Linked DNA regions of Homo sapiens. The protein of the gene in region 4 interacts with the protein of the main gene of each other region in a biochemical or structural test. Each region holds a gene or a part of one and is shown on either strand. Other genes may lie near its edges. The genes, in order: LRFN5, LRFN3, LRFN2, PTPRS and LRFN1.

What was found.
Region 1: the proteins of PTPRS (region 4) and LRFN5 interact in a biophysical measurement, tested with the Homo sapiens proteins (one large-scale study listed by IntAct).
Region 2: the proteins of PTPRS (region 4) and LRFN3 interact in a biophysical measurement, tested with the Homo sapiens proteins (one large-scale study listed by IntAct).
Region 3: the proteins of PTPRS (region 4) and LRFN2 interact in a biophysical measurement, tested with the Homo sapiens proteins (one large-scale study listed by IntAct).
Region 5: the proteins of PTPRS (region 4) and LRFN1 interact in a biophysical measurement, tested with the Homo sapiens proteins (one large-scale study listed by IntAct).

Annotation. Positions count from the first base shown.
Region 1 is NC_000014.9:41,900,365-41,903,881, forward strand, and holds part of LRFN5 (leucine-rich repeat and fibronectin type-III domain-containing protein 5 isoform 1 precursor), read left to right. Parts: intron 1-3,517. UniProt on the Homo sapiens protein: Cell adhesion molecule that mediates homophilic cell-cell adhesion in a Ca(2+)-independent manner. Promotes neurite outgrowth in hippocampal neurons.
Region 2 is NC_000019.10:35,935,119-35,939,187, forward strand, and holds the start of LRFN3 (leucine-rich repeat and fibronectin type-III domain-containing protein 3 precursor), read left to right. Parts: upstream 1-1,255; 5' UTR 1,256-2,437; intron 2,438-4,069. UniProt on the Homo sapiens protein: Cell adhesion molecule that mediates homophilic cell-cell adhesion in a Ca(2+)-independent manner. Promotes neurite outgrowth in hippocampal neurons.
Region 3 is NC_000006.12:40,430,362-40,433,878, reverse strand, and holds part of LRFN2 (leucine-rich repeat and fibronectin type-III domain-containing protein 2 precursor), read left to right. Parts: intron 1-747; 5' UTR 748-765; coding exon 766-2,165; intron 2,166-3,517. UniProt on the Homo sapiens protein: Promotes neurite outgrowth in hippocampal neurons. Enhances the cell surface expression of 2 NMDA receptor subunits GRIN1 and GRIN2A. May play a role in redistributing DLG4 to the cell periphery.
Region 4 is NC_000019.10:5,330,809-5,334,325, forward strand, and holds part of PTPRS (receptor-type tyrosine-protein phosphatase S isoform 1 precursor), read right to left. Parts: intron 1-3,517. UniProt on the Homo sapiens protein: Cell surface receptor that binds to glycosaminoglycans, including chondroitin sulfate proteoglycans and heparan sulfate proteoglycan.
Region 5 is NC_000019.10:39,314,348-39,317,864, forward strand, and holds part of LRFN1 (leucine-rich repeat and fibronectin type III domain-containing protein 1 precursor), read right to left. Parts: intron 1,790-3,517; 5' UTR 1,735-1,789; intron 1,027-1,734; 5' UTR 990-1,026; coding exon 1-989. UniProt on the Homo sapiens protein: Promotes neurite outgrowth in hippocampal neurons. Involved in the regulation and maintenance of excitatory synapses. Induces the clustering of excitatory postsynaptic proteins, including DLG4, DLGAP1, GRIA1 and GRIN1.

The DNA.
Region 1 (3,517 bases), on a different chromosome or scaffold from region 4:
TAGTATATTATTATAAATGGAATTTAGACTTTCTTTGGAAGTCTTTGTACTAAGAGATATAGCACAAAATTTTGCAAATGTGATACATATATAAGGCTTTGAATAATAACTTTTTATCTTAAAGTAATTAGTATTACAAAAAATAAGAAAATATCATTAAAAATAAATGACTGTCATATATTATAGAAAACTTCCCTTCATACTTAAGCTACCTTGTTCCTCTTTCTATAAATATTAGCAAGTAAAACAAATCCAAAGACAAATAATAGTTTTAACAAAATTCAGTGGCCATACATCACTCACTTATTAGCCAGCTCCTTGCTACCTTTCTATTATCAGATTTAAGTTACTGTATGACCCCAAGGTAACTATTCTTGATTCTCGGTAAATGATTTGTGCTATAGCAGGCCTATGTCTACCACTGTGAGAAGACCAAACAGTGATGCCCCTACTGAAGACAGTGTGTGACCTGTGTGTTCTTAGCTTTGTCATAGCCTTTCACATTGTCAGTGTGTGAATGAACAGAGGTGGAGAGCGGGCAGAGACCCTTTGTGATTGCAACTCTTCAGCTCCGAGTTTTCCGTAGCCAGTCATACTGAGGTACCTGTTAAGGTGAATTTTTTTCTAAGCATAGAGAGTTAAAACACTTATTTCATTTCCATTATTCAGAATATGCCCCATGCCAATTTTCTTTTTTAGAAGCCTTTAGGAATGTATATAAAAGTTGAGTGGCCTTGAAATATTTTAATATCTAATATATAATACAATTCTTTTATAATATAATCATAAAATTTTAATCACACTAAAATGAATTGAGAGGAAAGGGGAAAGGAATTACGTATAAAATTAATGCTGATAACTCTACGTGGAAATTGACACTTACCTATAAATTTTCCTTGTGTTTGGCCAAGATTTTTATCTTTACAAGGAACACAGTAAAACAATAGTTATGCTGTTCGGCAGTTAAGTAAGAAATAGTTGAGTAGTTTCCATTTATACTGAAAATGCCTTAAATAAAATTTCTTAAGAACTGTTTGCTGTTTTCTGACCAATAAAATATGTATGCATTGTGTGTGTGTGTGTGTGTGTGTGTGTGTGTGTGTAGCTTTGCACAAGAGCTATAGCTTATTCTGTGATTGCTTGCACAGGCCTTTAAGATAATTGCTTCTTGATTTTAATAAATTTAACTTGCGATTAGTCCACATTTAATAACAAGCAAAAGTGTAAACTTTGCAATAAAATCTCTGTTACAGATGAGTACAATTTTTTAGATAATTAATATACAAATTAAAAGCTAATATTGATTATGAATACATAACAACACTGATAAAACTATGGGAAAACACAGGGTTAGGAAAATACATGAAATAAGAGCCAAAGAGAAAAGCAAATTTTATACACATGATGCAAATATGCTTCCAATTTGTTTCCAGGTGAGTGTGATCAATGTAAAATATTTGCTTCTGCAGGAGGAGGTTCCTATGATATTCTTTTCAAGTAAATTTTCTGAAATAAGAGTAATAGAATAAACACATATGTAGGAAACATTTGGCTGTTTTTATAATAATTAAAGCATGTTTTTAACATATATATTTGAACATTATAACAAATTTTAAAAAAGGAGAGCCTTTGGGTCAGCAATGACCTTTAGAAATCATCTCCTTGCTTAGACATCCTAGCTATAAAAGATCAAAATATTTCACAGTTCTTAATTACATTGAGAATAGGGGCAGTAATAAATCTTTTCCCACAATTCATTTAATGTCAGGATTTTTTTTCTTCTCTTAATGTTCAGGGAGCTTGCATTTCTTATTTATCTTTTAGTACTGTTAATAAGACTGTCCACAGATTTTTGCATGATATCCACTCACTCTTAAATGAGGACAATAACCAAAACATCCTAAACCTACTACAACTTGATTATTTTTAGTTTTTGTAACATTTTTACCATATTTAGTCTGTATTATTTGTATTGTTTGATACTCTTGTAATTTTGTGTTTTATGTTTAGGTATTTATGGAATTACTATAGGAGCTATCTATTGATAAGTAAATTAAAAAGTGTCATTTTGGATATTCTATTAAATGCCAGTTTTTATTTGGCTTCATATTATTTAATAATTTTAATATTGCTACATCTTCAGAGCAGACAAACTTCTTAGTTCACAAAATTTTTATTTCCTACTGTTCAAATATAAACCATAATTTTACAGTTTGTTAATATGATTAGTTAATGTGAAACTCTAGTAAATCTTTAAGATATGTCAGCTTACAAAATCATTAACTTGATACTAAATTAAAGTTTGCTATCCTGGAACCATTTATTACTTAAAAACTTAAACTAGTTATTTTGTCCACTGTCATTTTCCTTCTAGGTGTACTGCAACTTTTACTTTTACTACTTTTTGTAACTTGACCTTTGATATAGTATCATAACACCTTTTTTGTGTCAAAGGGAGTATATCACTTGAAATATAAAAAGAGAAAACATGTTGATTTTCAATTTTACCAATATGAGCTCTGCAATGAACCAAATAAAGAAGAATTTAGTAATATATACCATTACATTTTTACAGTGATTTTGCAATGTTTTTCTTAGTATATTCCAGGTAAATTATGATAATAATATCTATATTTCAGTAGCTTTTTAAAAAGTAATTCTTTTTTTACAAATAAGATACACACTGGTCCCTTAACAGTCTTCACATATATGGTGTATTTCTTATTAGCTTTCCAAAATTATTATTTTTGCTAAAATCAATTTCACTATTCAGATTATCAATTATTTTGAAATGTTTTCTTAAATAAAATATCTTTACAGCATTTTACCTAACTTCACATAAAGTTACCAAAAATAACCTTTAATATACTTTAATAACTTTATCACATAAAATTATCTAAAGATATTCTACATCAACATTTTAATATAGAATACTAAATAAATGAATCTCTATTTCATGATTCATTCATGCCATGCATTTTATAATTCCCAAATAAAAAATTGTTAAGATGCAGTTGTTTTTTAATGGAAAAGAGAAAATTACTTGTACTCATGTATATGAAAGCATATATTTCTCAAAAAATTATTTTCCATTTTCATCAAGAATAGACTTCATTAGACATATCTTAAATCCATGAAGACTGAGAACACATATTAGAGGAAAAATATTTTCACAGTTTTATGTTTAAATATTTTTATAAAATGGCTTTTACATTATTTTCTTTCAAAATCATGTTTAATTCAAACATGGAATGCCTGTAAGAGTTATTGTAAGTTTTCCATTTATTTTGTTTTGTGGGTGAAAAACTGATTAGTTAAGGTGAATAATTTACTACCATTAAATGTATTATTAAATATTTGTAAAATTTTAATATCATACACATTTTCTAGCAGAATTTTTAAAATTTGTAAGTAGCATGCTTTAATAACTGCAATTATTATTTGTTTATCTTACCTTGAAATTATATATGTGAAAAACAAAGCAATAGAAAATGCCATTTTACAATGTAGCTTTGAC
Region 2 (4,069 bases), about 31 Mb from region 4:
AAAGCAAGACCCTGTCTCAAAAAAAAAAGTATGGTCTTTGAAAAGTCACATTAGCATCACCTGGGTACTCGTTAAAAATGCAAATGTTTGGGTCCCACCTCAGACCCACTGAACCAGAAACTCTGAGGTTGGGACCTGGAGATCTATGGTGCCCCCGGGTGATCCTGGTGGGCTGCACTGCAAGGACACCTGGCCTGGCTCCTGCAAGGCAAGGCATCCCTCTCTGCTTTTCTTTCTTTCTTTCTTTCTTTTAAAGACAGAGTCTCACTCTGTCACCCAGGCTGGAGTGCAATGGCTGGATCTCAGATCACTACAATCTCCACCTCCCGGGTTCAAGCAATTCTCTTGCCTCAGCCTCCCGAGTAGCTGGGATTACGGGCGTCCGCCACCACACCCGGCTAATTTTTGTATTTTTAGTAGAGACGGGGTTTCTCCATGTTGGCCAGGCTGGTCTCCAACGCCTGATCTCAAAAGATCCGCCCGCCTTGGCCTCCCAACGAGCCGGGATTACAGGCGTGAGCCACCGCCCCCGGCTGTCAGTGTGTCTTGAGGTCTTTCCCTAATCCCAGATGGCACAAGTTTTCCCTCTTGCAGGCAGAGAAAGGAGCCTTGGGAAGGAGCCCCTCTGGCCTGAAAGATCAAGCCTATTGCTGGGCATGGCCAGGTAAGGAAACTCCAACCGTGGAAAGGACATTCCAGGGAGGTGGTGCTGAGATAAGGGGGGCAGAAAGAGACAGGTTTGGGGGGCCAGTGGCTCTGGAATGAAGCGCTACACTCAAGGCTAGGAATAGTTACTGAATGCACATACACACATACCATTCTCACAGCCCAGGTGCTGCGTCTTAGAGCGTGTGAGTGTGTATGTGTGTGTCTGTGTGTGCGCGCGCACGCACGTCTCTATCTCTGTTTCTGTCTTTCTCTGACTTGTCCTTATCTCTTGTCTCTCCATCACTCTCTGTGTCTCGCTGTCTCTGTGCATTTCCATGTCTCGAATATGTGTGTGTTTCAATCTGTCTCTCTGCCTCTTTCCATTTTCTCCTCTCTATCCATCAATCTAAGCCTGCCCATCTTTTTGTCTGCCTTTCTGTATCTCCGTTCTTCTCTGTCTCTCTGTCTCAGTCTCTCTGTATCCAGGGATTCTCTTTCCCAGCAGCGCCAGTGCGACTCCATGGGAGGTGGGGCCGGGGCGCGTCTTTGAGAGAAGGGGCGGGTGCCTACGCCTTTAAGCGCGGGTGCGCGCGGAGCCTGCGCCTTTAAGCGCCGGTGCGCGCGCTGCCCTGGGTTGCCGGCGAGGAGGCCGCGGGAGCGCCTGGACCCGGCCCGCCCAGCCCGGCCCCCGCCCGGCCCCCGCCTCGGCCCCGGCGGGGGAGGGGTCTCTGAGCGCGGCCCCTCCCCCCTGCGCCCCCGCCTGCGCTGCGGTGCCCCCATCCCGCGTGTCCCAGTCTGTCTGACCGTCCCTCCGCTCCCAGGCCTCGCCCCACCCGGCCCTGGGGCTGCCCGGTCGCCCCCCTCCCCACCGCAGCCGGTCCCCTCCCTCCCAGTCAGCCTCCGCCGCAGCCCAGGAAGCCAGCCGGGACGCCGCCGCCCCGGACCCCGCGCCCTAACCTCCACCTCGGGGGCCTGCACCCCCAGATTGAATCGGGAATTCCGGAAACCCGAGCCTGGAACCCTGATCTGGGACCAGCACCCCGAGATCCGGCCGTGGAACCCCAAGATCTGGAGCCTGAACCCCAGTATATGGGGCTGGAATCTCAACATCGGTCACTGGGACCTCAATATTTGGAGCCGGAACCCCACAATTTGGAACACAGACCCCAATATTTGGAGCAGAACCCCAAGATTTGACATCTAAAACCTCAAGCCTGGAGCTGAACTCTGAATTCTGGGCCTGGGACCTTGAAATCTGGGACTGGATTTCCAGTACTGTACCCTGGAACCCACTCTTGGGGACCTGAACCCTGGGATTCAGGCCTCAAATTCCAAGATCTGGACTGTGGGATTCCAAGGGGCCTGAACCCGAGTTTGGGCCTGAAGTCCTTGCTGCAGACCTGAGTGCTTAAATCTGGGGCTTGAGACCTCCCAATCTTGACTCAGCACCCCAATATCTGAATGCAGAACCCCGGGATCGGATCTCAGACTCTAAACCCCACCGTTTGGCTGCTTAGCATCCCAAGACTGGACCTGGGAGACCCTGACCCTGAACAACCCAAACTGGACCCGTAAAACTGGACCCTAGAGGCCCAATATTTAGGGGTCTGGAACCCCGAGTATTAAGGTCTGGAGACTCCGTTGCCACAGATTTGAGCCGAGTCAGGACACAGTCCCTCTACAGAAGCCTTGGGGACAGGAAAAGCATGACCAGATGCTCCCTCCAGAGCCCTGACCTCTGACTCCCCTGGAGCTAGGACTCTGCTCCCTGGGGCTGCTTCTAGCTCAGGTAAGGCTGCTGAAACCTCAAGGTGGGGACGGGCTGGGAGGAGCATTGTGGCTGCGGGTTACGGTACCAGGTACCCTTTGACACTCTTGGGGTTTCTCCAGAAAAAAAGACATTCCCCCATGGGTCTGCCTTCAGCTCCTGCTCTGCTCCAAACACTCTCTGGACACTGGCCATCCTTGCCCCTCTCTGACCTTCCCTGCCTCAGTTGATGGGACCTCCAGGTCTCTGACCCCTGCAACCCTTACAGCCTTTCGCTGTCTATCCGGTCCGACCGTCTCCGCCACCTCTCTTGTCCACCACTCCTCTCTCTGGGCTCCTTTCTCCACCTGTCCTCTCAATGGCCATCTCTGTTCCCTTTTTCTCTCTCTGATCATCTTTGTGACACCCCTGTCCACAGGTCCTCTCTCCAGTCGCCTCTGCCTGCTGCTTCTCAGTGACCATCGCTGACATCTGTGTCCACTGTGCCTCTCTCTAATCATCATTCACCAGCTCTCTTGCTCCTTCTCCACCCCTGAATCTAAGCCTAGGTCTGTGACCGTCCCCATCCATCTTTGACATTGCTGTCCACCACTCTTCTCTCCAGCAGCCTCTGTCCATCTCTCCTCTCTAGCTTCCTCTGGCCACCTTTCCCTTTCTCTGGCCATCTCTCCCACTGCTCTTGCCCTCCTCCCACCCCTGACCCTAACTCCCAGTCTGCAACTGTCTGACCATCTCTGGCCACCTCTCCTCTCTCTCTCACTCACTGATGCCCTCTGATCATCTCTGGCCACCTCTTCTCTCTCTCTCACTCATTGATGCCCTCTTGATCATCTCTGGCCACCTCTTCTCTCTTTCTCACTCACTGATGCCCTCTTGATCATCTCTGCCCACCTCTTTTCTCTCGCTCGCTGATGCCCTCTGATCATCTCTGGCCACCTCTTCTCTCTCTCTCACTCACTGATGCCCTCTGATAATCTCTGGCCACCTCTCCTCTCTCACTTGCTGATGCCCTCTGATCATCTCGAACATCTCTGCTGCCTTTCCTCTCTCCGATGACCTCTCCCCGCACCATCCTCCTGAGCAGCTGTCCTGGGCTCCCACTGACTCTGCCATGTCTGTCCTTTTCCTCCTCTCTGACCACCTTGCTGGCTTTGGGCCGTTTCTGACCACGTGTCTCTGACATGGTCATCTCCCCCAGATCTGAGCCCAACCCATGCCCTCCCTTCTCTTTGTCCACTGCTCATCTTCCTGACCATCTGTAACCCCTTCTCTTCTCTGGTCATATCTGACCACTTCTGATCATTGTTGCCACCCTGGCTGCCCCGTCTCCCCATGGCCAGCTTTTACCATCTCTGACCACGTCTAAAGCCCTCTGGTTTTCCTGCCACTCACCCAGACCAGCTGTCATTTCTCTGACCATTTCTTTACTTTTTTCTTTTGGAGAGACAGAGTCACGCTCTGTTGCCCAGGCTGGAGTGTGGTGGCGCAATCATAGCTCACTGCAGCCTCAAATTCTTGGGCTCAAATTGATCCTCCCACCTCAGTGTCCCATGTAGCTAGGACCACAGGTGGGCGCCACCATGCCTAGCTAATTTTTAAAAATTTTTGTATAATAGATACACGGTCTCACTTTGTTGCCCAGGCTGGTCTTGA
Region 3 (3,517 bases), on a different chromosome or scaffold from region 4:
TATGTGAGGGTCCAGATAGAGGCTAATTGCTTATGAAGGGTTCAGAATTCACTCCTTTGCCTCCCATCACACCTCCTTCTTCACTTCCCACATTCTCAAAGATTCATAAACTATGTGGATTCTCCTTGGTGAAACAGTTCCCCACTGACCTTGGAGTCTCTCAGCACCAACTCTCTTCTTATCTACAACCTCATTCTTAAGGAATGCTGGTTCAATTTAATTTCATGCTAAGCCTAAACCAATTAAGAATGTAAAATTATGCCTCAAAAAACAGCCATAATATCCTTTCAAACTCAATTATTGGATAAGCCAATGATATGGTATCGCATTCATCCATCCATCCATCCATCCATCCACCCATCCATCCATCCATCCATCCAACAGATAGTTATTGAGCAGCTACTGTGTTCCAGGCATTGAGCTAGGTAATTGGGATACAGCAATTAGTAAAACAGGCAAAAGTACCTGCCCTCTTTGGAGCTGACCATAGAGGACTGAAACAGGAAACAATAAATAAACATCATAAATAAGTAAACTAAATAGTGTGTTAGAAGGTGATAAAGCTAAGGAAAAGAGAAACAGTAAAACTGCATTAGAGGGATTCATGGAAGAGATTAGGTCTTGCTTGAGCACTTGCCATTCTATGCCACTCCCTAAGGCAGTGAGGGTTAATGTGAGGGAGGAAGCTCTGGGTGAGTGCATTAGGAATTTGCCTCCTGACCCTGAGCTTGTGTTTCTCCCTTCCAGGCGCTGAGTGACCAGACCATGGAGACCCTGCTTGGTGGCCTGCTAGCGTTTGGCATGGCGTTTGCCGTGGTCGACGCCTGCCCCAAGTACTGTGTCTGCCAGAATCTGTCTGAGTCACTGGGGACCCTGTGCCCCTCCAAGGGGCTGCTCTTTGTACCCCCTGATATTGACCGGCGGACAGTGGAGCTGCGCCTGGGCGGCAACTTCATCATCCACATCAGCCGCCAGGACTTTGCCAACATGACGGGGCTGGTGGACCTGACCCTGTCCAGGAACACCATCAGCCACATCCAGCCCTTTTCCTTTCTGGACCTCGAGAGCCTCCGCTCCCTGCATCTTGACAGCAATCGGCTGCCAAGCCTTGGGGAGGACACCCTCCGGGGCCTGGTCAACCTGCAGCACCTTATCGTGAACAACAACCAGCTGGGCGGCATCGCAGATGAGGCTTTTGAGGACTTCCTGCTGACATTGGAGGATCTGGACCTCTCCTACAACAACCTCCATGGCCTGCCGTGGGACTCCGTGCGACGCATGGTCAACCTCCACCAGCTGAGCCTGGACCACAACCTGCTGGATCACATCGCCGAGGGCACCTTTGCAGACCTGCAGAAACTGGCCCGCCTGGATCTCACCTCCAATCGGCTGCAGAAGCTGCCCCCTGATCCCATCTTTGCCCGCTCCCAGGCTTCGGCTTTGACAGCCACACCCTTTGCCCCACCCTTGTCCTTTAGTTTTGGGGGTAACCCACTTCACTGCAATTGTGAGCTTCTCTGGCTGCGGAGGCTCGAGCGGGACGATGACCTGGAAACCTGTGGCTCCCCAGGGGGCCTCAAGGGTCGCTACTTCTGGCATGTGCGTGAGGAGGAGTTTGTGTGCGAGCCGCCTCTCATCACCCAGCACACACACAAGTTGCTGGTTCTGGAGGGCCAGGCGGCCACACTCAAGTGCAAAGCCATTGGGGACCCCAGCCCCCTTATCCACTGGGTAGCCCCCGATGACCGCCTGGTAGGGAACTCCTCAAGGACCGCTGTCTATGACAATGGCACCCTGGACATCTTCATCACCACATCTCAGGACAGTGGTGCCTTCACCTGCATTGCTGCCAATGCTGCCGGAGAGGCCACGGCCATGGTGGAGGTCTCCATCGTCCAGCTGCCACACCTCAGCAACAGCACCAGCCGCACTGCACCCCCCAAGTCCCGCCTCTCAGACATCACTGGCTCCAGCAAGACCAGCCGGGGAGGTGGAGGCAGTGGGGGCGGAGAGCCTCCCAAAAGCCCCCCGGAACGGGCTGTGCTTGTGTCTGAAGTGACCACCACCTCGGCCCTGGTCAAGTGGTCTGTCAGCAAGTCAGCACCCCGGGTGAAGATGTACCAGCTGCAGTACAACTGCTCTGACGATGAGGTACTGATTTACAGGTGAGCAAGCGGCTGTGGCAAAGGCAGGGAGGGTGTCTGGCTGGGGAAGGAGGAGGGGATGGGGAGGTCTTGGGGCTGCTCCCACCTATACCCCTCTTCCCCAAAGGTGTCTGTGGGGATTCTGGGGCAAACTGTGCCATTCGTGCAGGTAAGAGGAGATAAAAAGAACATCAACTACAAGGCTAAGAAGAAAAGAATCCACACGGGCAGCCTGAGAGATATGTGTAAAGAAAGACCACACCTCCCGGCTGGGTGGCTGTGGTCAGTGGTCTTATGGCTATGAGCTTATGAATGTTCTGTTCTAAGCCCAGTTGGAGGATATACAAGGACAATGAATAGACCTCTTGGCTGAAGGTTCTGACTCCCCAAAAGAGGCATGCATTTGACCTTCACCTGGACTCATATGCAGTCATGGTTAAGGCTCTGAGGTCAGAAAGAGTGAGATTCAAATCATGGCTTTTCCACTTGCTAGTCATTTCATTCTCCTGGCCTCCCTCAGTTTTCTCATCTGTAAGATAAGGATAATTAATACCTGACTTAGTTTGGACACTCACTAAATGCACTTATTCAGTTTTGGTAACTGAATCAAACTGGCTTTTAAAAAAAAAAGAGAGAGAGAAAGGGAGGGAGAGTGTGTTGACTCATGTCATTAACAAGTCAGGAACCTGCTTCAGGTTCAGCTGGATCAAAGGTCCCCTACAAATCTGTATTCTCAGTTTCTTACCTTCCCTAAGTTCTATTTTTCTCTGGGTTGGCTTCACCGTCAGGGAGTCTCTTTCCCCTGGGAGACCTCTGCTGGGTCCTCTAAGCAGCCCTAGAGCCTACTTAGAGCCCTAGAGGGAGAAGAGCTTCCCTTTCCCAATTGAGCGCTGACTGAGTCAGACCACATCATGTGAGCCCCCTGGGTCTTACAGGTAGCATCAGCCCTCTCACCTGTGCTGAACCCCCTGGGCCTTAGTCTCTGCATCTAGAAGTGAAGACAATGGTACTGACCTTGAAAAGTTCTCTGAAAATCAAGGGGTCATTTCCTAGGTCTGGTAGAAAGGGAGGTTAAATGTGGAAAGCTGCAATAGAATCACATAAGTCATTCAGAGGAAAGAAGGTCACAGAGTGACAGAAGGCCAGGGGCCAAAATGCTGACCACAGATGAGTTCCCTTATATGAAACATGAAGGACATGGCCTAAAACCTTACCGCTCAAGGAATGTATGGTGTCCTTTGAAATTCTGTGTGTTTTATTTTATGCATGTAAAATGATTGTTTGGAGATGGGATCCCATGAGTTTCATCACACAGCCAAAGGGCCCATGGTGCAAGAGAGATCAAAAATACTTGATCCATCCTGGAGGTCTCC
Region 4 (3,517 bases):
CCAAGAGAAAAAGTCCTGGGACCTGGCAGCCTCTCTGCACCCTGCTGATATCTGGGAGTTGAAGCCAGCACTGTTGCCGGAAACCCCGGCAGTTCACACTCTCTAGAATTCATCCGACAGGGGCAATTACCCACTTCCAATAATCAATGGGGCAGTGGAACCAGGACAGATGTGCAGAGGGAACCCATTAGCAATCTAAGCGTTCTGGCCCCGCGAGACGTCAGGGAGCGTGTTGGGTGGACGCTCAGGGACAAAGGCACCATCTGCCTGATTTCTCTCGCTGTCTTGGGTCTTCAGCATAAGTCAGGGCTTCTTTTTTTAAAAAAAAAAAAAAAAAAAAAAGAGAAGGCCTTGCTCTGTTGCCCAGGCTGGAGTGGAGTGATGCAATCATAGCTCACTGCAGCCTCAAACTCTTAGGCTCAAGCAATCCTCCCACCTCAGCCTCCCCAGTAGCTGGGACCGTACGTGTGCACCCCAACCCTCGGCTGATTTTTTTTTGTTTTTTGTAGAGATGAGGTCTCACTGTGTTGCCCAGTCTGATCTTGAACTCCTAGGCTCAAGCAATCCTCCCGCTTTAACCTCCCAAAGTGTTGGGATTATGGACGTGAGCCACCATGCCTGGCAAAATCAGGGTTTCTAAACCTCAGCACAGTGTACATGAGGGTGGGGTCATTATCTGGGATGGGGTCATCCTGGCCATTACACAGAGTTGAGCAGCATCTCTGGCTTCCACCTACTCCATACCAGCAGCACCCCCCTGGACATGACACCCAAAAATGTCCCCAGACGTTGCCAAGTGTGCCCAGGGGAGCAAAAGTGACCCCGGCTGAGAACCACAGCAGTACACTCAACGAGTAATACTGGTAACCCGGGTGCTCCAGCCCCAAGAGCAAACGACTGCGCTACAGAAAGAACGAGGGATGGAGAAGCAGGTCCTGCCGCCAGTAGATAATTCGCAGCCCTGCCCCGCGGGACAGCCGGCTTCCTTCTACGCAGTATTTAATTTAAGTCAAGTTTATCATTATGACCAATATTAATATAATCAGAGCCAACGTTTATCGAGCGCGGACGCTGGCCCAGGCCCTGTTCTCAGCACTCTCTGTAAGCTATCACACTGGTGCCTCTAAAGAACCGCAGAGGTGGCTGGGAGTCTTAAACCCATTTCACAGGCCTGGAAACTGAGGCCCGCGGACGGCAATGGAGGTGTCAGAAGTCACGCAACTTTTAATTGTTGGGGAAGGGGTCAAAGTCCACGGTGGCCCTGGATTTCTGTACTGTGCCATGTTAAGATGTTTCAACCCAAGGATGTTAAAATAGGGCAATTTTTTTTTTTTTTTAGACAGAGTCTCACTCTATCGCCCAGGCTGGAGTGCAAGTGGCATGATCTCAGCTCACTGCAACCTCCGCCTCCCAGGTTCAAGCGATTCTCCTGTCTCAGCCTCCCAAGTAGCTGCGATTACAGGTATGCACCACCATGCCCAGATTATTTTTGTATTTTTAGTAGAGGCGGGGTTTCACCATGTTGGCCAGGCTGGTCTCAAACTTCTGACCTTAGGTGATCTGCCTGCCTTGGTCTCCCAAAGTGCTGGGATTACAGGCGTGAGCCATCATGCCCAGCCAAAATTGGGCAATTTTACTTAAAATCTAGATTTCTGCTTTTCCTTGGAAAAACCAACAGATCTGGCCCTGGAGCCATTCAGGGCTTCCTTGGAGGTTGAAGAAGCCTTTTTGGCCCATACGACCCGCTGGAGTGGAGACTCCAGCCCTGACAGGCGTTATGGCTTGAGAATCACACACCCGCCATGGCTTCCTGCCTCGGTTTCTCCCTTTGGACTGGTGAAAGGGGTCCCTGTCCATCCTCCTGCGCAAGGCCCAGCAGCAGGCAGGCAGGCATGGCTGTGTGGTCTTGGGCAAGTTGCTCTCCCTCTCTGGGCCTTGGCCTGACAGATGTTCCAAGAAGCATTCCCAACATTCCAGGTTTTCTGTTGATCCTGATGTTGGCAGCCCAGCTCTGGGGGCTTTCAGAGAACTCTGACCGCACATCTAAAAAATGCAATTTGTTAGACGCGGTGGCTCACGCCTGTAATCCCGGCACTTTGGGAGGCCAAGGCAGGCGGATCACTTGATGTCAGGAGTTTGAGACCAGCCTGGCCAATGGGGTAAAACCCCATCTCTACCAAAAATACAGAAATTAGCCAGATGTGGTGGCGGGTGCCTGTAATCCCAGCTACTCGGGAGGCTGAGGCAGGAGAACCACTTGAACCCGGGAGGCGGAGATTGCAGTGAGCTGAGATCACGCCGTTGCACTCCAGCCTGGCGACAGAGCAAGACTGTCTCAAATAAATAAAATAAAATAAAAAATAAATAAAAAATGCCAATTCGCCAGGTGTGGTGGCTCACACCTGGAATCCCAGCATTTTCCGAGGCCAAGGCAGGCAGATAGCTTGAACCCAGGAGTTTGAGACCAGCCTGAGCAATATGGTGAAACCCATCTCTACAAAAAAAAAATAAATAAATAATAATAATAATAATAATAATAATACAAAAGTCAGCTGGGCGTGCTGGTGGATGCCTATAGTCCCCAGCTACTTGGGAGGCTGAGGTGGGAGGATTGCTTGAGCCCAGGAGTTAAGACACTGCAGTGAGCCATTATGGCATCACTGCACTCCAGCCTGAGCAACAGTGTGAGTCCTGTCACACACACACACACACACACACAATGCGATTCGAACTCCTTGGGGTGGGGGGTCCTGTGTGGTCTTCCCCAGCTAAAGTCAACTCTTCTCTTCTTGTTTCCGCCCCCCTCACCTCCAGCCACAAAGCAGCAGGTGCCACTCTCAGTCTCTGTCCTTGGTGCCCCCCACACCAGTTCATCTGTCTCCACTTATGATAGAGGCAATGTCAAAGCACCCATTTTACAGATCAGGAAACTGAGGCACAGAACAGCTTTATTACTAGCCCAAGCCCCACAGCTGCTTAGATTCTGGCTTCCAAGTTCCTTAGCAGCAGGTTTCCAGCAATCCTGATGGAATGAATGAATTAATGAACTGGTGAATATTCGAATGAATGCATGCATGCTCGCTCGCACACCATGCTTGTCAACCGATCACTTTCCTGAGTGCCCATCAAATGACTGCTGTTAAACCCCCAAATCCCCCCCAAACTCCCCCCTTTGGTGATCACTCGGGCCCACCAGGGGCTCTGGAAGTTGGGAGCCACATGTGGAGTCCCTGGAGTGCCTGGAGCTCCCAAGGCAGCCACGTGTCCTCCCTGTCCACCATCCAGGCCCCCTGTGGTTCAGCTCCCGCCAGTCGCCCAGTCCTGCCGCAGAAGTGGGGCGGCCTTGATTAAGCAGCCAGTGAAGGGGAACGCCCCAGTTTGCAGTGGCTGAGTCATCCTGACATCTCCCTGGTGCTGGACCCCATCGGGGGGCTGAGGGCGGGGTAGCGGGGCGCGGGTGGACACTGGAGAGCCCCTCTTGGGCAGGTCCTTCAACATATCAGTGTAGCTCCCATGT
Region 5 (3,517 bases), about 34 Mb from region 4:
ACCGGCTCGGGGTCACCCACCGCTCGGCAGCGCAGGCTCACCGCCTGGCCTTCCACCACCAGGGCCCGGCCCCCCGCCTGCCGTGTGATCAGCGGGGGCTCACACAGGAACTCCTCCTCGGGGATGGACCAGAAGTAGCGGTCGGTGAGGTGTTCGGGCGTGGCGCAGGTCTCTAAGTCGTCCTCGCGGGTCAGCCGCCGCAGCCAGAGCAGCTCGCAGTTGCAGTGCAGGGGGTTGCCGCCGAAGCTGACGGTCAGCGGGGTGGGCGGCTTGGGCCCGGTGCCCTGCGACCTCAGGAAGAGCCCGTCGGGCGGGAGTTTATGCAGGCGGTTGGAGGTCATGTCCAGACGGACCAGCTTGTGAAGCTGCACGAAGGTCCCCTCCGCGATGTGGTCGATGAGGTTGTGGTCCAGCGTGAGGGTGTTTAGGTTCACCATCTGGCCCACCGCCTCCCACGGCAGGGCCTCCAGGTTGTTGTAGGACAGATCCAGGTCCTCCACGGTGGACAGGAAGGCGTCAAAGGCCGCCGACTCCACCCGGCGGATCTGGTTGTTTCCAAGGATCAGGTGGCGGAGGTTGCCCAGGCCGCGGAGCTGGTCGCCGCGCACCTCCGCCAGGCGGTTGCTGTCCAGGTGCAGGGCCCGGAGGGCACGCAGGTCGGCGAAGGCGCCAGCTGCCACCTGGCCGATGGTGTTCCGGGAGAGAGTGAGGTGCACCAGGCTGGTCATGTTGGCGAAGTCTCGGCGGCGCACGGCGGCGATGAAGTTGTCGGTGAGCCGCAGCTCCACCACGCGCCGGTCGATGGCGGGCGGCACAAAGAGCAAGCCGGTCTTGGCGCACAGCATTGTCAGTGTGGGCGCCACGTTCTGGCAGATGCAGCGGCCGGGGCAGGGCTGGCCACGAGATGCCCCCGCCCAGAGCAGCAGCAGAAAGGGCAGGGCAGCGGGCGGCGGCGAGAGGAGGGCCGAGGAGAAGGGTCCTGGAGCCATGGTGCAGTGGGAAGGCAGGAGGGGTGGGAGGTGAGACCTGCCGGGGAAGGAGCCGGTTACCCAGGCGTGGGACTTGGCCGCCATGGGATGTCCTGCTACGAGTCAGGCCTGGATCCCTCCCCTACCGCCTACAGCTGGGTTCCATAGGATGGTGAGAGGAAGCCACTATCAGCTATTAACAACAGATTACAACACTTCCATGCTGGGCACAGTGGCTCACGCCTGTAATCCCAGCACTTTGGGAGGCCGAGGCAGGCGGATCACCTGAGGTCAGGAGTTCAAGACCAGCCTGGCCAACATGGTGAAACCCCGTCTCTACTAAAAATACAAAAATTAGCTGGGCATGGTGGTGGGCGCCTGTAATCCCAGCTACTTGGGAGGCTGAAGCACGAGAATCGCTTGAACCAGGGAGGTGGAGGTTGCAGTGAGCCGAGATCACACCATTGCAATCCAGTCTGGGCGACAGAGCAAGACTCCATCTTAAAACATAAATAAAAATAAAAATATCTCTATACTGGTTGATAGAATACCCCTGTCCCTACTTGCGTGTCCCACCCTCACCTCTGCCCCTCCTGTAGTAGCTCCCAAACCTCTCATGATCTCCCAACCAGAGGGGTGACACCTGGCCCAACCTGGGCCCTCCAGTACCCACTAAATTGTCTAAAAAATCACTGTTAACTATGGTTTAAGGCCCTGGCTATCCAAGCCATACTCCCTAGCTCCAAATCCCAGCTCTGATACTTACTAGCTGTGTGACCTCCAGCAAGTATCTGAACCTCTCTGATTCTCGGTTTCTTCATCTGTAAAAGGGAGATAGAAACAGGCCTTACTTCTGTGAGGATTAAATGTATTGATGAACATAGCATACTTAGAATAGTGCCAGGCATATAAAATGTGCTTATTACATGTTAGCAATCATCATCATGATCATCAAGTGCTTAATATGTACCAGGCATAGAACAGTGCCCTATTATTGAGAGTAAGTACTTTGAAATCAAACAGACTCAGGTTCAAATCCTGATTCCCCTTTTGCTAGCTCTGTGACCCCCAAGCCAATGATTTCCCCTAGCTAGGCTGTAATTTCTTAATCTGTAAATTGGGATGATAATTGTACCATCTTCATTCATGTACCACCGACCATGCCTGGCATACAGTAAGTACTCAATAAATGTTAAGGGTTTCCCCCCTCCCGCCTCTGGCATTGGCAGGGAGAGTGTCAAAGTGGGAGGGACTGAGGAAAACACATCAGAGTCTTCCAGTTCAGCCTCAGGAAGGCCTTCTCTGAGGTCTGGTTTCATCCTGGGCTCAGTTGAGCTCCCAAGCAAGGCAGACTTTCATGCTCACATCTTTGGGTACACACAACACACACACACACACTCACACACTCACACACTCACGCTATGTCTCTGCTCCAGGCAAAACCTTCCGGCAGGGATTCCCCCTGCGGCGGCTGCAGCCCACGACATGTCAGTTCCCATCACAACACAGGGTGGGCGGGGGGTGAAGAGGAAAGGATGGGAAGGGGGCGTCCCTAAAACTGTTTTCACCCCACCCTGCCCTGTACCCTAGCCCCTGCTGGCCTACCTCCCAGGAATCTGTGTTTGGGGCTACGGCCTTAGGTGGCTTTGATCTTCCTGCCAGTGGGGAGGGGGCCTGGGACAGAGACCAGGAAAGTCAGAGACAGAGGTGAAGAGAGACAAGGAGAGACCAGGGGGAGGGAGAAGTGGACTGGCAAAGAGAGAGAGACAGATTGGGAGAGAAACAGAGAGACAAAAAGATGAGTCTGAAAGGAAGGTGAACAGACAGAAAACTGAGAGTGAAGAATGAGACACAGAAAAGAGAGAGACACAGAAAAAAGACACAGAGATGGAGAGAAAAATAGAGACAGTATTAGAGAGAAAAAGACAGAGGAGGAAAGAGACAGAGAGTAAGAGAGACAATGACCGGGCTGAAGGCGGAAAAAGAGGCCGGATCGGGGTGTCCTACCATCTCTGAGTTCACCCCAAATCTGTCCTTCACTCCCTCTAGATCACTACTCTACAATGTACTGGAAACCCTGGCCTAGAAAGGGGGACTCCAGAATTAGGAGCCTGAGTCTGCCCCTGCTTGGCTGTGGGGTCTTCAGGGCTCAGAATCCCAGTCTATGAAACAGAAGTCCAGAGCCTCGCCTCCGACAGCTGGGGTAGGACTCAAATGGAGGGAATAATAATAGCAATGGAAATAGCTAACATTTATGGAGAGTGGTGCAGCACTGCAGGACAGAATCCGCCCTACTGCCTGGGTTCAGACCTCACCTCCCCACTGTGTGACTTTAATCAAGTGACTTCCCCTTTCTGTGCCTCGGTGTGCTCATCTGTCAAATGGGAATAATAATGGCACCCACCTCATAAGGTTGCTATGAGGATTTAATGAGATAATATTTTATGACATGCTTAGAATAGTTCCTGACAAAGTAAACACTATATACATGTGAGCTGCTGCTATTATCATTATTATTATTACTATTATTATTACTAATTTATTATTTT